Homo sapiens: one gene and its partner. The protein of the gene in region 1 purifies or fractionates together with the protein of each later gene. This does not show direct contact. Each region holds a gene or a part of one and is shown in the gene's direction. Other genes may lie near its edges.

The links. Proteins that work in one complex are often made in the same cells at the same time.
Region 2: the proteins of PIK3IP1 (region 1) and FAM114A2 purify together in Homo sapiens (affinity purification with mass spectrometry; one large-scale study listed by BioGRID and IntAct). This does not show direct contact.

What each region holds. Positions count from the first base shown.
Region 1 is NC_000022.11:31,285,147-31,290,711, reverse strand, and holds part of PIK3IP1 (phosphoinositide-3-kinase-interacting protein 1 isoform 1 precursor), read left to right. Parts: intron 1-1,012; coding exon 1,013-1,213; intron 1,214-1,318; coding exon 1,319-1,397; intron 1,398-5,565. UniProt on the Homo sapiens protein: Negative regulator of hepatic phosphatidylinositol 3-kinase (PI3K) activity.
Region 2 is NC_000005.10:154,020,972-154,026,536, reverse strand, and holds part of FAM114A2 (protein FAM114A2), read left to right. Parts: intron 1-14; coding exon 15-138; intron 139-5,565.

The sequences.
Region 1 (5,565 bases):
CGCCGCGCGTCCTGAGGAGTGGCTTTTGGCCCCTCAGCGTTTATTGACCGTTTGCGGAGCGTCTGCAGTGTGCTAGACCCACACTGCTCACAACCCCAGCTCCCCAACCTCCCCTGACACACACCGCGGGAAGAAGTCGTTTGAGGCATCTGAGCTTCAGAGAAGTTAAGCGATTTACCAAAGGCAATGGCAGGGGACAGATTTGAATTCACGTTTCTTAGATTCCAGAGCGCAGGCTTTTTGCTCCCAAAGCAGCAAGAGAGTTTTCTAGGTTTAAATGGGATAATCAAAATAAAGCATTTATTTTTTATTTTTTATTTTTTGAGACGGAGTCTCGTTCTGTCACCCAGGCTGGAGTGCAGTGGCGCAATTTCGGCTCACTGCAACTTCCGCCTTCCGCGTTACAGTGATTCTCCTGCCTCAGCCGCTTGAGTAGCTGGGATAACAGGCGTGCACCACCACGCCCAGCTAATTTTTGTATTTTTAGTAGAGACGGGGTTTCACCATGTTGGCCGGGCTGCTCTCTAACTCCTGACCTCAGGTGATCCGACCGTCTGGCCTCCCAAAGTGCTGGGATTACAGGCGTGAGCCACCGCTCCCGGCACAAAGTAAAACATTTTACCTAAGGACTGGCACAGAGCGTACGCTTAGATGTGAGCTGCTCAAAGGAAGCATGGGTTGTTTCCTGAAGTAGAAGTGGGGGGAATCCCCTGCAGAAGAACGCAACCGAGAGGGGCCTTGGGAAATAGCAAGGATTTGGACAGATAAAGACGTGGGAGGTAGGAGAGAAGCCCTTCCCTACGGCCTTCCTCTCTCATTTGCCTTGTCCCTGAGATGGTTCAGCCCTCTCAGGCCTGATCTTACCTCTGGGGCAGAATTTGACTTTGGGTTGTGTGTGGGGGGAAATTCTTAGGTGACCCACCTTCATCTACCCTAACACTCAGGCCAGGTTCAGCTGTGGAATTCACTCAGGGCAGTCCCTGATGAGAGCTGTTTCCCACCTCATCTCCAGAGACCACCTCCCAGGCCCTGCCAGCCTTCACGACAGAAATCCAGGAAGCGTCTGAAGGGCCAGGTGCAGATGAGGTGCAGGTGTTCGCTCCTGCCAACGCCCTGCCCGCTCGGAGTGAGGCGGCAGCTGTGCAGCCAGTGATTGGGATCAGCCAGCGGGTGCGGATGAACTCCAAGGAGAAAAAGGACCTGGGAACTCTGGGTATGACGGTCCCCCACCCCTGCCCTCGTTGGGATTCATCAAGAGATGTCATTTGCTGATTGTCTAGGGTGTGGCTAATGGGACCTTGTGTCCTATCCTTGGCAGGCTACGTGCTGGGCATTACCATGATGGTGATCATCATTGCCATCGGAGCTGGCATCATCTTGGGCTACTCCTACAAGAGGTCAGTAGCTTCTCTTCTGGGCCCTCTTAGGAGGAGGGGAGGAAGGTACACAAAGTCAAACTTTGTGGCTTTCTTACCCAAAAGGAAGCAAGATGTTGAAAATCAGCTCAAGATGTAGAGACTTGGTCCTAGTCTTTATCTGCTGACCTTGGACAAACCCTTTCCTTTGGTGCCTTTACACCTCACTTAAAAGCCTTGTGAGGGATGTTCTTGTTCCGCATTTTACAAATGAAGAAGCCTCTGTCAGAGACTTGCTCAAAGTCACATAGCCTAGGAGTGGCAGAACCTGGATTCAGACCCAGCTCTTTTGATAGCAAATTCCCTGCTGTCTGATCCCACATGCCTGGCATTGAAGTGAGTGGCACTGCAGAAATCAGGCTTGACACTGATTGCAGGGACCTTAAGACCAAATTCTTTCTGTGAGTTATAAAATTCTGCTACTAGAAAAGGTTTCCAGCCACTGTTGCAGTTGAGGCTTAAATTTCCTGAGCTATAAGCAGTGGGATCTCCTCTGCTAGGGAAGAAAAAAGTGAGTTGGAGAACAGAAAGTCTGTTTGCCACTCTTCACCACGTGTGAGAAAGCCAAAGAGGCTACTTGTGAAACTCAAGGACATGACCTGTGGCTGGGACAGCAGGAGAAGAATGCTTATTTTGAAAGGTCCCACGAGATGTCCGTCAGTGACTGGTGCATGATGGTAAGCCAGACTGGCATTCATCTTTACAGCACTGGCTGATTGTGGAAAATTATTTGCCATTCTTGGGCAAAATCGGGGGATTTGACTTCTAGCCCTGGGTGTCTGTAATATTCTCCTCTGTGGTCTGAGAAAACTTCCTGTGAGGAAAGTGACACAGTAGCCTGCATTTTTCCTTCCTTTCCTCCCTCCCTCCCTCCCTTCCTTCCTTCCCCTTTCTTTCCTTCCTTTCTTTGATTTTTTTTTTTCAGGGTCTCGCTCTATTGCCTAGGCTTGAGTGCAGTGGTGCGATCACGGCTCACTGCAGCCTCAACCTCCCAGGGCGCAAGTAATTACCCCCACCCACCCCCACTGAGTAGCTGGGACTACAGGCATGTCCCACCATGCCTGGCTGATTTTTAATTTTTTTATAGAGACAGGGTCTCACTGTGTTGCCCAGGCTAGTCTCAAACTCCTGGGCTCAAGCAGTCCTCCTACCTCAGCCTCCCAAAGTGTATAGGCATGAACCACCATGCCTGGCATGCAGCCTGCATTTTCCAGTGATGAGGGCCATGTCTGAGCCCACAGCCTCAGTGGATCACCCAGCAGGGCATCTTTAAAGGCCTTGTAGTCAACCTCCTCATTACAGATGAAAAAGGGGAAGTTTGGGTATAATAATAACAGCAGTAGCAAACATGTACCGTATGCCAGACACTGCTTGAAGCACATGCTTTAACTCATAATCACCCTTATGAGGTAAATGCTGTCATCTCCAATTTACAGATGAGGAAACTGAGGCAAGAGGGGATTATATACGTTACCTGAGGTTACACACCTAGCATTTGGTGGAGAGAAGTCCTTTAACTAGCTATCTCTGTGACCCTGGGCAAATTGCTTCAATTTCCTACTCCACATCATGGTGTGGAGCTATGGCTTTTGACTACTTAGCTCAGGGTGTGGCACATAGTAGGTGGTCAGTAAATGATGGCTGTTTTTCTTTTCTATAAAATGTGTGGCTGGGCGTGGTGGCTCACACCTGTAATCCTAGCACTTTGGGAGGCCGAGGCGGGCAGATCATGAGGTCAGGAGTTCGAGACCAGCCTGGCCAACATAGTGAAATCCTGTCTCTACTAAAAATACAAAAAATTAGCCAGGCGTGGTGGCGGGCACTTGTAATCCCGGCTACTTGGGAGGCTGAGGCAGGAGAATCGCTTGAACCTGGGAGGCTGAGGTTGCAGTGAGCCGAGATTGTGCCACTGCACTCCAGCCTGGGCGACAGAGCCATACTCCGTCTCAAAAAAAAAAAAAAAAAAATGTAGGTAATGGACCAGGCGTAGTGGCTCACACCTGTAATCCTAGCACTTTGGGAGGCAGAGGTGGGTGGATCGCTTGAGCCCAAGAGTTCGAGACCAGCATGGGCAACATGGCAAAACCCTGTCTCTACAAAAAAATACAAAAATTAGCCAGGCATGGTGGTGGGCGCCTGTAGTCCTAGTTACTAAGGAGGCTGAGATGGGAGGATCACCTGAGCCTGGGAAGTCGCTATGGTGAGCCATGATTGTGCCACTGCACTCCAGCCTGGGTGACAGAGTGAGATGCTGTCTCAAAAAAAAAAAAAAAAAAAAAAAAGTGGGTAATGGACTAGTACTCTCTGATTTCTTATGATGCAGGAAGCAGAGGTCCAGAGAGGGAAAGTATTGACTTGAGAGGACATCCTGACGCCCAGTCTGAGGTTGTTTCCCACAATGGGATGCTTGACATGCAGGTCCAGGGACACCTGCTTGTTCATTTCAGAGTTAATGACATAGTGGCCCTGGCCTTACAATTCATAAGCAGACCTAAGCCACATTGGCTGAGTTTAGTCCTTGAACTATCTCCTTTTTCCTCAGCCACCCAACAGCATTTGGCTGTCCTGCAATCCTGTGACAGTTTCCAGGCCTTCCAGGTGCTTGAACTGACTAAACATTCTTAATTCTGAGCTCAGTTCTGGTGTCCAGTGGAAGTCTTTTTTCTTCTAGATTTGTTCCTCTAGGCTGTCACGAGACTGCCCTGAGGCCTAAAATTTATTTTCCTGTAAACTCAGGGCAAGGCACCCAGTCATCAGACTCCCCGTCACTAACGACCAGATCACCCCTTTCTTCAGCAGAACTGCTCTGAGAACAGACTGTACAACAGGAAACCGCATGTGGGCTTAAAAACAAGCTTGCAGCCTTCATCTCTTCCTAAAGTCAGAGAGCAGAGTGTCCTGAAAAGAGCTGTAGGTTGAGTGTGGGTTCAGGTGCCCTCTGAGCCTTGGTATCTTGTCTGTTAAATGGGGATATATCCTCCCTCCACATCTACCCATCTAAGATTATAAGTATTAAATGTAAACAGAAACAATAGCACACCAATCAGGTAATAATCACAATAGCAGCCAACATTTATTTCATGCTTTCTTAATAAGTAAGGCCCTACTGTATGCTCTTCCCTGATTATCTTTTTTTCTTAATTTTTTTTTTTTTGAGACAGAGTCTCGCTGTGTCGGCTCACTGCAACCGCCGCCTCCTGGGTTCAAGTGATTCTCCTGCCTCAGCCTCCCGAGTAGCTGGGATTAGAGGCACCCGCCACCATGTCCTGCTAATTTTTGTATTTTTAGTAGAGACGGGGTTTCACCATGTTGGCCAGGCTGGTCTTGAACTTCTAACCTCAGGCAATCCACCCGCCTCGGCCTCCCAAAGTGTTGGGATTATAGGCATGAGCCACTGCACCCAGCCTCCTGATTACCTTGACTAAGCCTCACAACCACACTAGGAGCACTGTTAGATTTTACAGTGAGGAGCTGAGACCTAGCAGAGTTAAGTACAATGGCCAGGCTACACAGCTAGTAATGTATGTCTGAGGAGTATTAGTATCTCCAGCAAGTCCAGTGAGGCCAAGTAGCCTCATGTAAATTTGCTTTGAATTGCAAAGGAAAGTAGGAAAAATAGAAATTTAAAAAAAGGCTGGGTTTAAAGTCAGAAGAAACAAGATCTAGTTCTGGAACTTTCACCTATTCTGGATGTGACACTGGACAAGTTATTTACCTTCTCTGGACCTCAATTTCTTCATCTGTACTGTAAGGGGGTTAGATATGGTGATACTCCCAACTCTATTTCCTAAAAAGACAATATTGCCGGTGCTAAGACTGGGTTCAAATCCCAGCTCTGCCATTTGCTTGAACAAATAGTGTAACTTCTCTGCATCTGCCTTCCTATCTATGAAACAGATCAAAATAGATACCACATAGGTTGTGAGGATGAAATTGGACAGTATAGTTTAGGCATACAATTGGTGTTCTATAGCCTGGGAGAGGAAGTTGGAGGCAGCATACAGTAGGGCCTTACTTATTAAGAAAGCAGGAAATAAATGTTGGCTGCTCTTGTGATTATTACCTGTAGCTGCCTTGGGAACTTTTCCTGAGCAGCAGTGTGGCACAGCACTGCCTCTGACTGGGAAAATAGCAGCGGCTCAGAGTAATA
Region 2 (5,565 bases), on another chromosome or scaffold:
TTGTATCCATTCAGGTGAAATCTATCCTTAATTCTCTGAGTGGAGAAGAATTAGAGACTCTAAAAGTTGAATTAGAGCAACTCAAAGAAACATTTTCTCTAGCAGAATTTTGTGAAGAAGAGGAAGAAGAGAAAAAAGGTAATATGAAAATTTAGTATCTGAGTGGAGAGGATGCAGTGTGTTTGTATGCAGTGCATTGCCCTTGAAATAAATTATTTACTCTTATTACACTGGCTTGATTTTACTTTTTTGGTGAAAATTTTTATGCAAATTCTCTGTGTAAAATTCTCTGCAGCCTTGCACCTGACTAGGCATTGATGGGGGCAGTTGGCCTTATGCCCATGTCTCCCTGCCTCCTTCCAACCAAACCCTTTGTGGCTTCTCAAGGTCTAATCTTGCAACTCACATCTTTGCCTATTTTTGCAGTTAGAAAGCTGTTCTCATCAGATTCTTGCCTCAGTTTGACTGGTCATTCATATGAGCTTTCATATTCCTAGGTACTTTACCTCTGCCTCTCTGACTCTTGTAACCCCTGATTCTGTCTTGAATTGAAGCATGCAGGATGGCAGTTATCTAAAATGTGGGTGATAGTTTGTCTTTTTTTATTTTGAAAACTCTTATACCATATTTTAATATCTTCATTTCTCAGAAAATGTAAATGTAGATACTATGTATATTTGCAAAATTATCAGGAAATGAGATGGGTCAGGAAATGAGATGGCTGACGTAAAGTATAATTGCCAGGCAACTGAATATTAAGTTCTAAGGGTTGTTTTATTGACATTTTAGCTGGAAATATTTCTAAGATATACACTAACTGACCTTTTTTTTTTAAAAAAGTGGAATCTAATGAATACAGTTTTGCCTTTTCTTCATGAAATAATCAGTTATAAACATTAAAAGTGAATGGAAAAATTCTCTCAGGTTTCATTAAGACATAGGGCCAATCACCCATGTAGTAGGTTAAATCAGTGATGAACAAAGTGTGGTCTGTAGACCCTTGAATTCCCAGAACCCTTTCAGGGAGTCTATGAGTCAGAACTCTGCATCATAATACTAAGATGTTGTCTACTTAGGAATTTTTTAAAAATTATAATGAGTTTTTTTTCTGCTTTGGCATTTGTGCTGTTGGTGAATAACAATGATGCATAAAATTGCTGGTGCCATAACATGGATCAAGATGTTAGCAGACTCTACTAGTGTCATTGCATTTTCATTGCCATGCATTGGCAGTTAAAAAAAAAAGTGCCAGTTTTATTTAATCTTGTCCTTGATGAAGCAGTAAAAATTATTAATTTTATTAAATCTTTACCTTTAAGTATGCATCTTACAAATATTCTGTGTGATGCCTACTGAAGTATGATGGTTGTCTCAGGAAAAGCACTTACATTATTTGAGTTGTGAGCTGAACTATGTGCTTTTTTCGTGGAATACCATTTTTACTTGAAAGGATAACAGTCACAGAGACTATTCAGAATAGGATAATTGGTACACATTTTCCTGAAAATGAATGAAGTGAACCTTTTCTTCAAGGAGAGCAACTAATTTATTTGTGAGTCATGATAAAAATTTAAGTGAAGGTTGAAACTTTGTAAAACATATTTGCTGCTGTGGTGAGCTTGACAGCTTCCCAGTGCTTATAGACTCTTCTTATGAAATTGGTGGTGATCATATTTGTTAAAATATCACTTTTTGATATTTTAACAAGGAAATGTGTCAGCATTTGGAAAGTCTGCATAACTCAGAGAACCAATATTTTCTAAATGTCAAATCACCATGGGTAAAAGACCTAATGGATTTTAATTTAGTGTACAAAATTTTATGATATGGTTTCAGGTATACTGCAATATGGTTCATTGCAACTAATTTTTAAGAAACGACCACTTGTTGAGTTTTAATGTGGTATTAAAGAATATTAATAATGATCTGAAAAGGCTATTAAAATACTTCTTCCCTTTCCAACTATGTATCTTTGTAAAGTTGGATTTTCTTCATATACTTAAAGCAACATAACAGACTGAATATAAAAGTAGATAAGAGAATTTAGCTGTCATCTGTTAAACTAGATATTAAAGAGATTCAACCCTGATGGCACTGTTCTCACTAAACTTTTTCTTTTTTGAAAAATATAGTTTTTTAAAATAAAAAGTAGGTTTATGTTAATAAGTGGTATGGGTTTACTGTTTTGAATGAATTAATAAACACTTTGTTTTAGCTTTATATAAATATTTATAACTTTTTATATGTATATGTATAAAACTTACACTAAAAAAGCTCTTTAATGTTCTCAGAAAGTTTTACAAGAACAAGGTCCTGAGACCAACAAGTTTGAGAATTACCAGATTAAATGACCTAAACTGCAATGCTTTTTAGAAATGTCTCTGATTGCTTTTTAGAATTGTACATCTTTATTTCTTTCTGTTCATTTATCTGTTCATCTTTTACTTCACTGTTAGCTGGCTTCTGATATCCCCTGAATCTTATTTGGTTTTCTATTTCTAATCTGTGGGTGAGAAACCAGGTAACTAATTTTATTTGAGATGTCTATTAAAAGCAAAGAGCTCTGAGTGAGGGTCTTAGAGTCTTTCTTGTGACAGGAAACATAAAGTTAACTGTGTGGATTCTCTACAAACAGGGACTTTTTTTTCTTTTTCTTTTTAAATCAGTTAAGGAGAAGAAATATACATGTATATCATTTATAATTACATAGTTATCTTTACCAGTGCTTTTTGTCTTCTGTTTTTTTCAATTTTTTTTATTTCCATAGGTTATCAGGGAACAGGTGGTGTTTGATTACATAAGTTCTTTACTGGTGATTTGTGAGAATTTGGTGCACCTATCACCTGAGCAGTATACACTGCACCCAATTTGTGCACCTGAGCAGTATACACCACACTCCCTTCCCATCCTTTCCCCCTGAGTCCCCGAAGCCCATTGTGTCATTCTTAAGCCTTTGCATCCTCATAGCTTAGCTCCTACTTGTGAATGAGAGCATATGATGTTTGGTTTTCCATTCCTGAGTTACTTTACTTAGAACAATAGCATCCAGTCTCATCCAGGTCGCTGCGAATGCATTAATTCATTCGTTTTTATGGCTGAGTAGTATTCCATCATGTATATATATACCACAGTTTCTTTATCTACTCGTTGATTGATGGGCATTTGAGTTGGTTCCACATTTTTGCACTTTTGAATTGTGCTGCTTAAACATGCGTGTGCAAGTATCTTTTTCTTTTTTAAATTATTTTATTAGTATACTTTAAGTTTTAGGGTACATGTGCACAACGTGCAGGCCTGTTACGTATGTATACATGTGCCGTGTTGGTTTGCTGCACCCATCAACTCATCATTTATGTTAGGCACTTCTCCCAATGCTATCCCTCCCCCATCCCCTGACCCCACGACAGGCCCAGGTGTGTGATGTTCCCCGCCCTGTGTCCAAGTGTTCTCATTGTTCAGTTCCCACCTATGGGTGAGAACAAGTGGTGTTTGGTTTTCTGTCCTTGTGATAGTTTGCTCAGAATGATGGTTTCCAGCTTCATCCATGTCGCTACAAAGGACATGAACTCATCCTTTTTTATGGCTGCATAGTATTGCATGGTGTATATGTGCCACATTTTCTTAATCCAGTCTATCATTGATGGACATTTGGGTTGGTTCCAAGTCTTTGCTATTGTGAATAGTGCTACAATAAACATATGTGTGCATGTGTCCTCATAGTAGCATGATTTATAATCCTTTGGGTATATATCCAGTAATGGGATCACTGGGTCAAATGGTATTTCTAGTTCTAGATCCTTGAGGAATCACCACACTGTCTTCCACAATGGTTGAACTAGTTTACACTCCCACCAACATTGTAAAAGCATTCCTATTTCTTCACATCCTCTCCAGCACCTGTTGTGTCCTGACTTTTTAATGATCGCCATTCTAACTGGTGTAAGATGGTATCTCATTGTGGTTTTGATTTGCATTTCTCTGATGACCAGTGATGATGAGCATTTTTTCACGTGTCTATTGGCTGCATACATGTCTTCTTTTGAGACATATCTGTTGATATCCTTTGCCCACTTTTTGATGGGGTTGTTTGATTTTTTCTTGTAAATTTGTTTAAGTTCTTTGTAAATTCTGGATATCAGCCCTTTGTCAGATGGGTAGATTGCAAACATCTTCTCCCATTCTGTAGGTTGCCTGTTCACGCTGATGGTAGTTTCTTTTGCTGTGCAGAAGCTCTTTAGTTTAATTAGATCCCATTTATCTGTTTTGGCTTTTGTTGCCATTGCTTTTGGTGTTTTAGTCATGAAGTCCTTGCCCATGCCTATGTCCTGAATGGTATCGCCTAGGTTTTCTTCTAGGGTTTTTATGGGTTTAGGTCTAAGTCTAATCCATCTTGAATTGATTTTTGTATAAGGTGTAAGGAAGGGATCCAGTTTCAGCTTTCTCCATATGGCTAGCCAGTTTTCCCAGCACCATTTATTAAATAGGGAATCCTTTCCCCATTGCTTGTTTTGGTCAGGTTTGTCAAAGATCAGATGGTTGTAGATGTGTGATGTTATTTCTGAGGCCTCTGTTCTGTTCCATTGGTCTATATTTCCCGTTTGGTACCAGTACCATGCTGTTTTGGTTACTGTGGCCTTGTAGTATAGTTTGAAGTCTATATGATGCCTCCAGCTTTGTTCTTTTGGCTTAGGATTGTCTTGGCAATGCGGGCTCTTTTTTGGTTCCATATGAACTTTACAGTAGTTTTTTCCAATTCTGTGAAGAAAGTCATTGGTAGCTTGATGGGGATGGCATTGAATCTATAAATTACCTTGGGCAGTATGGCCATTTTCACGATATTGATTCTTCCTCTCTATGAGCATGGAATGTTCTTCCATTTGTTTGTGTCCTCTTTTATTTCGTTGAGCAGTGGTTTGTGGTTCTCCTTGAAGAGGTCCTTCTCATCCCTTGTAAGTTGGATTCTTACGTATTTTATTCTCTTTGAAGCAATTGTGAATGGGAGTTCACTCATGATTTGGCTCTCTGTTTGTCTGTTATTGGTATATAAGAATGCTTGTGATTTTTCAACATCGATTTTGTGTCCTGAGACTTTGCTGAGGTTGCTTATCAGCTTAAGGAGATTTTGGGCTGAGACAATGGGGTTTTCTAAATATACAATCATGTCATCTGCAAACAGGGACAATTTGACTTCCTCTTTTCCTAGTCGAATACCCTTTATTTCTTTCTCTTGCCTGAGTGCCCTGGCCAGAACTTCCAACACTATGTTGAATAGGAGCGGTGAGAGAGGGCATCCCTGTCTTGTGCCAGTTTTCAAAGGGAATGCTTCCAGTTTTTGCCCATTCAGTATGATACTGGCTGTGGGTTTGTCATAGATAGCTCTTATTATTTTGAGATACGTTCCATCAATACCTAGTTTATTGAGAGTTTTTAGTATGAAGGGCTGTTGAATTTTGTCAAAGGCCTTTTCTGCATCTGTTGAGATAATCATGTGGTTTTTGTCGTTGGTTCTGTTTACGTGATGGATTACGTTTATTGATTTGCATATGTTGAACCAGCTTTGCATCC